Regions from separate parts of the Homo sapiens genome. Here region 1 is linked to region 2. The links come from fine-mapping of genetic effects on gene expression. A gene starts in region 2. The other region holds a variant in brackets. All regions are shown on one strand. Distances are between the middles of the regions. Region 1 overlaps LOC105371019 (a long non-coding RNA gene). Region 2 holds the start of MEF2A (myocyte enhancer factor 2A).

The links. PIP is the estimated chance that this variant, and not a neighbour inherited with it, causes the effect.
Region 1: its variant is the best candidate, but not a certain one, in a credible set for the expression of MEF2A in testis (GTEx, PIP 0.60).

The regions. Positions count from the first base shown.
Region 1 is chr15:99,496,750-99,502,126 of GRCh38, reverse strand. LOC105371019 (a long non-coding RNA gene) reads left to right here. Exons shown (of 3, transcript XR_001751710.2): 3 at 3,007-4,630. Among named protein-coding and RNA genes, the nearest start is that of LINC03080, 64 kb to the right of the region's middle. RefSeq lists an enhancer at 1-140. The variant T/C (reference allele first, on the strand shown) is at 2,669.
Region 2 is chr15:99,563,199-99,568,575 of GRCh38, reverse strand. MEF2A (myocyte enhancer factor 2A) reads right to left here and starts at 2,592. Exons shown (of 12, transcript NM_001319206.4): 1 at 2,472-2,592. RefSeq lists silencers at 2,092-2,141, 2,982-3,421 and enhancers at 1,321-2,294, 2,295-3,270.

The DNA.
Region 1 (5,377 bases), 66 kb after region 2:
AACTTGTTGCAAACGGCATTTCCCTCTACTTGAAGCCCATTCTCAAGGTTTCTGTATCTTATTTTCCTTGTTGGCCGGCAGCCTCTACCCAAAGAAAGGGAGGGAAAGCCATCTGAATTTCCGAATGGATTTCTTTAAACACATGGCAGTGACAATACTCTTTACAAAGCCCAGGCTTTGGTTTCTTCAAGTAAATTGAAGGTGAAGGGGAGGGACAAAGGGGCAGCAAGTCTCTTGAGAAGCCCACGTGTGCCGTGGCACCAGAAGCATGGAGGGGCCCCAGCGGATGGGCCACACGTGGTTTCCCAGAGCCCCCAGTTTCCCAGGGTGGCGCAGCCAACGTTTCCATGCCATGTAGAGAGGACAGGTGTGCCTGAGAGCAGGCTGCAGAGCCTTGGTAGTGGGATAAAGAGAACACGGGGCACCTGCTTAGGTCTGGCAACTGGAGAGTGGAGAGGCCACAGATACAGGGGGTAGCTGGGTAGGTGTCAATGTCCTGGGGCCAATGAACATTGACTGTCTGGGTTGCAGACACACGGTGCCTCCCAACCCGGAATACACCTCACTCAAGTTTAACACCTGGTGAGAAAGAGAGGAAAGAGGAATAAAAAAAATCCATAACTGATTCCATTTTTACTTAAAGGACAGTGAGAAAATTTTGATAGTGACTGAATGTAAATAAGGGGTTAGGAGCTGCACTAAATTCAATCAAAAAAATTAAGTAAGTTATTTGCCTGTATAAGCCTGAAAAATTTCAACCTTCCTCACCTCTTGGGGTTACCATAGGTTTTGGAACAAGGTGGAGATTGGGGCTAGAAAACCCACCGTCTTCCAACTCGGCTTTATCCTTCTCTTTAAGAACCAGGCTTTCTGCACTTGATGTGGTTACATCTTTGAACTTACTGGCAAGAAACATATGTCTGTAAATTGGCCTTGAAAAGTGATACCCATATGCAGGTTATAGAGAAGGGCTAGGATCCTTATTCCAGGAAATCCTCTGCTTTCCTGGGAAGAAGATTACTGCAGTGAATGAAAACAAGATGAAACAAAACCAAAGGAATCAATACATTCCATCTGCCTTTGCTGCTTCAGCCTGTTTTGGGAAGCTCAGGTGCAGAGGTTGTTGAGAGCCTGCTGAGAAAGTTTGCCGAAAAGGTCAGCATTCTTGGTCATCAGGGCTAGCCCCAGATCTGCTATTGCAGGGACTCTCTTCTGCACCCTCCAGCTTTATATTTTCTGGAAACATCTCCCCTGATCAAGCATGAATGGGACTGACCAAACCCTGCCTGCTTTGACGGCATGTTACCTTGCACAATACTCAGGCTAATAACACACACCCTCCCATGGGTGTTTGTTGTTTGGGGCCCTCCACCTTCGAGGACAGACACTGTCCTGTTTTGAACTCGAGGCAGGAACTTTGACACCTGCCCTTGGCTGTCTCAGGAGCTCCAGGAAGTGTCACTTTATGCCATAGTGAAGGTGCTCTTCTGTATGGCCCCTGCCTTCCTTTGCAGTAGACAACTCACCCCTCTCCAAAAATGCCACCCATGTTCACACTGCTGTGTCTTTAGACACATTATCTCAGCCCAGGATGCCCATCAGCCTGCCCTACCCCACTCCAGCTCCCTGCCTACTGCAATAGGATGTCCTAGACTCTGCTAATGACCAGGCGCCACAGGATGGAGAAGCCAGCGCACAGGAAACACGAATGGTGAAATCCAAGAAGCCACCCTCCCTTTTTTTTTTTTTTTTTTTTTTTTTGATCTGTCTCAACAGATCCTCACTCCGTTGCCCAGGCTGGAGTGCAGTGGTGCGATCTTGGCTCACTGCAACCTCTGCTTCCCAGGTTCAAGCAATTCTTGTGCCTCTGCCTCCTGAGTAGCTGGGACCACAGGCATGTGCCACCACACCCAGTTAATTTTTCTATTTTTAGTAGATATGGGGTTTCACCATGTTGGCTAGGCTGGTCTCAAACTCCTGACCTCAAGTTATCCGCCTGCCTAGGCCTCCCAATATGCTGGGATTATAGGCGTGAGCCACCACACCCATCGCAAGAAGCTACTCTGAGCTGAAGATCAATCAGTTTATCTAAAATGGGACTGGAAGGCAAGGTGTGGCTTGGACATTGACCAGATGTGTGGTGGTGATGGATCATTTGACCTCTCTAGGCCTCTACTTGCTCAGCTCTGAGCTGATGGGGCTAGATGGATGAGTCCTGTCTGCCACATTAGCCTGCGACTGTAAGTCTGGGTTTGCTCCAAGATGGTTCACCCACATGGCTTGTGGCAGGAGGCCTCAGCTCCTTGCTGCATAGACCTCTCCATGGGGCTGCCTGAGTGTCCTCACAACATGGCAGCCAGCTTCTCCAGTGCTAGTGATTTGAGAGCGACAAGGGCAGAAGCCACAATGTCTTTTATAGCCGTACCATCACTCGACCTTACTCCATCGGTCACGTGGGCCAACCCTGATCCGATGTAGAAGGGGACCACACAAAGCATTGATACTAGGAGGTGGGACTACAGATGGCCATATTGGAGGTGGCTGTCACCAAGCTCAAAATCCAAACTTAGTTAGGCTCATCTGAATTATCAAGAAATCGATCTGGAGGATTTCCTAGGAGTTCCTGCCCGCAGGGTTTGTATCCTGCCCCTTCCGTGCCCAGGAGTGA[T/C]AGGTCCTGTGGAGCTGGATACCAGAGAAAATCTTTTCATGACACCAGGCAATGCCAGACATAGAGTTGACAGTCAAGCAGGCGCCACAAAAGGGATCTGAGAGCCTAAGGCTTGGAAAGTCCAGAGGCTCAGCAAATGTAGGAGGGCCAAGTAGGAGCCAAGTTGGAGCTGAGTGCAGGAATACACGATTTCTTTCTTCTTCTTTTTTTTTTATTTTTGGAGGAGGGAATAAGTCATTCATAGTTAACATCAAAGTAAATGTGTTCAGATTAATACCTTGAATTATATTAATGTGCTTTCTTTTTTCACTCCTTATTTGTGATTTCCACCTACTTAGCCACAGTTTCCATTATCTTCATGAGCAGTAGCTGGAATGAAGGAGAAATGGAAAGTGGGAATGAAGACAGGATGCTGAGCTTCAGATACTTAAATAAACTCAAGAACAGGAGGACTGAAAGCCAAGATTTCAACTGCAAGAGCCGGGCCATTAAGAGAGGAAAGGGTTTCCTAAATTCGCATACATTTCTTTTAAATACAATAATCTTAGAGGACAAGCATGGGGTTTTCACCACACACCATAGTGTAGAGAAGGATTCACAAATGACCCAAGAGCAGTTCCCTGTCCCCCAGCAAGGTGAACAGCCCTTCTTGGGCTGGGATGTGGGGGGCAGAGATGAGAGACATTTTCAGTTAATGAGATTATTAGATTAAGACACTATACCTAGAGTGCAGGAGAGATTATGGACATTTCAGATGGTCCAAAGAAGAATCTGAAAGCTTGTGCTCCACTTTCTGTTTAGAATTCCAGGCAGAGACTGCCTTGCAAGGTGATCTACACCCATGCTGGGGGGCTTCAGTAGAGGAGAAATGATGGTGTGAAACGTTTAGATATGGAGGGAATCTGAGATGCCATAGAGGAGGTTCCCTGGGTTTCTGTGTGGCTTGGGTGAGATCTAGAACTTTCTGTGTGGGATGGGAGTGGGGAGCAGTAGTACTAAAAGGGTCGCGGGAGAGGAAGAGGTTGGTGCCTGGTAGGAGACAAACCCCTGCAGCTGGAGGCCAAGAGAGGATCACGGTGGGCAGAGCACATGGCCCAGGGGTGGAGCCGACCTCCAGACACCAGAAGAACAACCTAAGTTCCTCCCACACAGTCAGACTTGAAACTAGAGGACAGACAGAGAACCAGGAATGTCTACTTTGCCCCCATGAGGAATAGAAACAACTTCCTGACTATCCCTTGGTGGGACAGGAGGACTTTCAAGAGGATGAAACTCTGAAAAAGAGTTTACCCTGTGATTAATTAAATGAAATCCTCAATGGCCAGAGTAATTATACAAAGATTAAGTGTCAAATGGGAGAGAGTTTACCTGGAAGCAGTAAGATTCGTTGCTTTTATTGGTTCATTTGTTTTGTTTTCTGCTTTCGGTAGAAATGGATCTTCACGAGTCAGTTGAATTTGATTAAACAGAATTTAGCATTTCAGCCATTTGGGTGACAGTGGGTGCATTCTAAAGTCAGCACACCACCCAAAGTGATATATGAGGTGGAATGGGAGGGGTGGCAGGTATTCAGCTTAAAGGACCGGGATATCATGATCAGTGGCTACTGTTTTACTTTTAAAAACCTTCCTTTTCTGGGTCTAGAATATATAAAGAATGTCTACAAATCAACAACAAAAAACATGAACAGCCTAATTTTTTAAACAGGCAAATGAATTCAGTAGGTATCTCACAGGACAAATGAATGATCAGTAAGCACTGAAAAGGTGTTCAATGTCCCCAGTCATCAGGACAACACAAATTAAAATTGCAATAAGATAACATTTCACGTCCACTAAAATTGCTAAGGTGAAATACGATGAACATTGACAAGTGTGTGGAGACACTGGAACTCTTTATCATTGTGGATGAAGATGTGTCTAGCAGTTTCTTATGGCAGTAAATAAACATGCTTCTACCCCATGACCCAGCAGTCAGTTCCACTCTTAGTTATTAACCCAAAAGAAATGAAAACAAATGTCTACACACAGACTTATACAAGAATGTTTACAGTAGCCATACTCATAAGAGTCAAACACTGCAAACAATCCCAAGGCATGTCAACAGAAAGGATCAACAAAATGCAGCATCTCCGTTTAATGGAACATCACTCAGCAATACAATGAACCATCTTATTTTTTATCTTTTGAGATGGAGTCTCACTCTGTCCCCCAGGCTGGAGTGCAATGGCACGATCTTGGCTCACTGCAACCTCCCTCTCCTGGGTTCAAGCGATTCGCCTGCCTCAGCCTCTCGAGTAGTTGGGACTATAGATGCATGCCACCACACCTGGCTAATTTTTGTATTTTCATTAGAGACGGGGTTTCACCGTGTTGGCCAGGCTAGTCTCGAACTCCTGACCTCAAGTGATCCTCTCCTCTCAGCCTCCCAAAGTGCTGGGATTGCAGGCATGAACCACCAGGCCTCGTCAACAATCCATCTTCTGTTAGACCCACAACAAGGATGAACCTCAAAAAAAATTGTGCTGAGTGAAATAAGCCAGACACAAAAAAAGTATATACAGTATGATTTCATTTATATGAATCTCTAGAACAAACACAATTGATCTATGTTGGTACAAGTCAAAAGGTGGCCAGGAACATGAGGGAACTTTCTGGGCTGATGGTTATGTTCTATATCTTGTGTTTGATGGTGATTACATAAGCATAT
Region 2 (5,377 bases):
CATATTCTAATAAACATTTCCATAATTTCTTAACCACCCTCAGAATATAATTCAATATTCCTCTTTTTGGTAGCCAATTAATGGATGACACTGCTATTGCTGGAATATTAATAAAATTAATATTAACCCACAATGCATGATGGAAAAGGCAAATTGTAACGAAATTGCTTTGAAAAACATAACATCACCATTTGAAACAACTCAACCTTTTTAAGAGATTATTTCCAACTGCATTTACAAAAAAAAATCCTTGTCACACATACCCATATGAAAACAAACTCTAAGAATACAGAAGGAAATTATTCTCAAACCATAATTCAACATGGTGACATTACAATTATTTCTGGGTGTCAATAAGCTATTTTCCTTCCACTGAACACCCCCCAGAATTTAATTTTTTAAAAAACTTTTGAAGGCAAGTAAAGTGTAATTTTAACACTTTTGTTCTAATATGAAATCAAACCACAATTTTATATATAACCATAGTGTGAATTAAAGGAAATAGGTAAGCAAATAATTGCGTTTAGAGAGGTCACCATTACTTCACAGTCACTGTTTTCACTAAGTAGCTACTGGAACCACACTCTTCAACAAAACTGTTAATCTAGAGTCTACAAACATTCAAATCACCAGTTTTAGCTCTTCAGAGTACTTTTGATTATTGTAACACCATTATCACAACTTTTTGCAACAATGCTCACTGAGAATTAAAATAAAGGTGATTCTATTGTCAATGTGTCACCATATATAACAAATACTGATCTTAATGTTTTATGATATACAGGTGTGTGTTTATGACATTTAATATAAACTAATCTAAATCAGCATCTGCTTTAGTGAAAACTCTTGATTCCCTAAAACAAAAGTTGTAATTTACAGAAAAAGAAATGGAGACTGAGCTCTCCAAAAATACACACACACACACACACACACACACACACACACACAGTACATACAAAAGCCATAAAGGCACAATGCAGTCATTTTTATCCTCACTTCCTAAATTCATATTAAAAGAAATGTCATTTTTGTATGTTTAAAAAAGAACTATTTTGTTTACCTTTTCCACAGACTGTTCAAGAACTGCCAAGGTAACACAGATTCTAAAACTGACAACTAGAGTACTTAGCAGTTGCCAAAACAACACAGCTGGATTCTTAAAGGGAAAGTACTCTTGGGTAATGTACACCTAATTACAGCTTTAGAGAACCTCCTCTTCATATAGTAATAGATGATACAAGACACATGGGAAACATACTGTGCTAAAAACCCGAAAAAATGTTAAGACAATGTTTGTTTAAAAATACATATGCTATTGTTAACACATCACAGCAGGCCTTTCTAATAGGGCATTTATTGGAATCCCAATCTCACTGTAAACTAAAACGCAGGTTAACACTATGTTATATTCAAGCTACACACGGTTCCCTGCTGGACCATAACAGGAGGCTCGCTTCACAGCTCCGGAATCTATTTCGGATGTGAGCAACAATTCTATAGTTACACTTTTAAAGAAAAACTGTTTTCTTATTCAGGATTGCTCACCTTTTCCAAACTTGTTTGCACTATCTCACTTACTTTAACCCTCACAGCTCAAAGGCATGAAATCGAGCCAAAAAGCAAAGTTTCTAACACAAAAAATATTTTCTGCGAGCTGGGATCTAGCCGGATGGCAGGGGTTCAGCCAGCGGTTCCCTGTGCAGCCCCTCTGTCCCCGCGACGTCTCCCCGCACGATCGGGCGTCCGCAACCGCAGGTGTCCGCCCCAAACACCGACCCCGCCACTGACATCTACACACTCACAGAATTCGTACCTAAGCGTTCCACCCCGTTAGACCAATCTTCTCCCAAAGCAGAAGTGGGGGAACTTCTTCAAGTCCAACAGGGCAGAAGGCCCCCCGCACTTGGGGCTAATCCCTTCGGGGAGACCCCCGGGCTTGGAGGGAAAAGGGGAAGGAAAGGGCCCTCAGAGCGCACCTTCTCCGGGGTCTCCCGAGAACTCCTTCAACTTTCAAGGAGGCGACGTCCACCACCGCCCCCCGGCCCCAAGGGGTGCGCGCCCGGGGAGGCTGCTCGCCACCAGCCCGCGCGACTGAGCTCCCCTCGGCCCGCCCAGCCGAGCCCCATCCAGCCCCACCGGCCCGCCCTCAGGGCACCCCGCCCCCACCTCCCCGGGCGCCTAGCTCCTCAGCGCCGACCCCGACCCGACCACCCCTCGCCGCCTCCCAGCACCCTACCCGCCTCCCAGCACCCTACCCGCCCCGCCAATGCGCGAACGCGACCCTGGCCCCCTCCAAGCCGGACACGGCCTCGTCCAGGGGTCCCCGGAGCCCCCCGGGCGACCCTCTCGGCCGCGCCGTCCCCCGCCCCAGCACCTCCACCCCAACCCCTACTCGGTCCCCTAAGCGAGACGCCGCCCCCCTCCAGCACTACCGGCGTCGCGGACTGAGCCCCGCTGCCCGCGGCCCTCACCGTATCTCCGGAGCAGCTGGCGGGCGCGCACACGCCGCAGCCCGGGCCCGCCACCAGCGCTTCGCGCCGCCCGGAGCCGCCTCTTTCAGCCCGGGACTCGCCGGGACATCCGCGCACGGATCCCCACACCGGGGCTATTTTTAGGAGACAAGCCTCGGCCAGACCGGAACTCGTTCTGTGCTGCGCGTGCGCACTACCTCCGCCGCCTCGGTGTCCCTCCGCAGCCCTGCCTCCCCTCCCTCCTGGGTTCCCTTCCTCGCTTCTCCCCATCAGTTTCTTTTCAGGACTGAATTATCCTCTCGGTGGGTTCTAGAGTAATTGGAATGGGAAAGACAAGGGTAGGGCAAAGAGAGTCACGGTGCTTGGAAGCGGGCGCTATTCCACAAGGACGTGGGGGCGGACTATGTTTTTCCGGGTGGGTGAGGAGACGATCACCTGGCACAGGAAGAAGATGACGGCGGCTTGGCGCCGGGGCCGCGGGTTGGAGCTCGCTTTCCTCTGAAGGACCGTGTTCCCCTGGAAGGGATACTGGTCACTTGATGAGGGCCCGGGCGCCTCCCAGGGCGGGGCGGCCCGGCGGCGTCGCGCCCTGCCGCCCCCGCTCCGCCGCTCAGCCGCCGCCACCTCCCTGACCAGCCCCCGGGAGCCCAGGCCGGGAGCGGCCCGGTGACGCGGCGCGTGGCAAATCGCCGCGCGTGGCCTCCAGGGCAGCCAACCCGGGCGGTGGGGCGGCGCGGCGCGACGGGACTGGGCGGGGCTCCCGGGGCGGGGGCGGGGCGCGAGGCCGGCTGCCGCCCGGAGTCCGGGGCCGGGCGGGTCCTTCGGGACGCCCGGGTCAGCCTCCTCCCTCCCTCCCTCGAGGCGCCCTTGGCCTCCCCGGGTGTCGGCTCGCCACGCCCGCATTGTGGCCAGGGCCGCACCTGTGCTCGCCCCGGGGCACGGGCAGGTCACCCTCAGGAGCAAGCACAAGGGGACTCTGGGACCCGGGCCCGGAGAGAAAGGGACTTGAAGGGGTCTCGAGGGCGAGAAGGCCCTTTCGGACTGGACAGCCGAGCTCCCCAGGTCCCAGGACAGTAGCAACCTCCTTATCGTGACTTAATAGTTTCTAGGATGCCTGGGGCGGTGAACTATGTGATGGACATTTTGCATATGACAGCTTATGTAATACTTACAAGGCCCCATGAAGCAGATTCAGTTTCTATTCCCATTTTACAGATGAGGAAAGGGAAGCTGAGCGCTAAAGTGACCTGTCAGGGTCACAGCTTCAGAGTAGGGCCCTGAGGACTTGAACTCCTGACCACTCTGCATGTTGCCTTTTCTGAGATAGGTGCAAAGGGGATAGGCTTGGGACAGCTGTTGTGTTTTCTGGGGCTACTGATTATGTTTATCGAGGTCTTTAGGAGATGAGCCATTGTTGGCCCTCTCATCCTGAAAGCCGCTCACCTCTGAAGAGTTTTTCGGGGCCACAGTGCCTGCATGTGCCCCCAGAGGTGCCTGTGTAATGGACACGAAGCCAAATGGTTGTTTGCATTTGAAGATGAGAAATTCAATCCCGCAGCACTTAAAACAAAGTGGTTGGGGTGGGTGAGCAGATGAGCAGAGGCTGTGAGTGGAGGAACTGGGAAGTTACAAAGGAAGCCAGAGACTGGCTGGCTTCCTCCCTCAAGGACAACGGGGCAATGTGCTGGGGAGAGCCCAAAACAAAGGCGGCACATAGACAGCAGACGCCAGAAAATAAACCTGGAGCTCTGCTCAGAGCTCCACAACACCAGTGTTCAGGGGAGCCAGCAAAAGGAACTGCAGGGAGGTTTTTAAAACATGTCAAAATGTGGTGTAAATCAGCAAGTCATGTGGAAATGCATGCTTTTTAACCTGCCAGAAGCTGCAGAGCCGGCTGGATTTGGCTCTTCTGCTCCAAGAGGACGAGAAGAGTTTAATACTTATCCTTTAAAACTTAGGGTCTGGAGTGGGGGCACAGTGATCAGTGGCCCTCTCCTTGCCACCTGCTGTCACCCTGGAAGAAGAGGCAATGAAAACAGACTGTTCCAAAAGATGTTTTCACCCTTATTGCTCCACTCCGGCTCCCACCCTTCCAGAAATTGAGCCTCCTGAGGCACAGAAGACTCAGCTCAGACTGCCCAGCCCTTACCCATTCCAATGCTATTGTTACCCTCAAAATGTCAAGCAGAGAACTCAACTATGAGTCCAGCCACAGCAGAAATGAAAAGAGTGTTTGCATCACCTTAAAGAGCACCTCTCTCCCCACCACTCTGCATGTCAAAGCCCTTGTCTGAGAATTGCAGGCAGTGGTAAGAAGGAAGGAAGGAAAGGAAGGAGAGAAGGAAAAGTGGAAGGCTAAGTTTAAGAATTGTGGAGCACAGCTATTAGCAGAGCACAATCACTGTTATTTGTAGTAAAAGCAACCAATTTTAGGAAATTGCCACAGCCTCTGTTTCAGCTGTTGAAAACCTATACCTGAAGTCTAGCGTCTCTAGCAACTTCGAGCGCTCAGAAAGACCCTGTGCCGAGCACTTACGTGTGCCACTGGCTTGGAGGGAACTGAGGAGCAGCATCTGTCAGTCTTTCCCCTCTGGCCTCCTTAAAGGCACTCAGGGGTCCAGATGTTTCTGAGCTGCAGGGACTGTGCACTGGGCCAGGCACTGAGATACAGAGGTGAGAAAGAGCAGCCCTTTCTTCAAAGGGGCTGGCAGGCCGTGGGGAGGATACACCTTAAAACACAACCCATCATGAGGGGTTTCCTAGAGTGCAGGAAGAGCACAGATGATGAGTGTCTAAGGAGGGACAAGAATTAGGGTAGGCTTCTTAGAGGACATAATGCCCACAGTGAATCTGGAAAACCTCCTGGTAGGATGAAAAAAGGGCCCTCACTGTGTCTTGATGAGAAG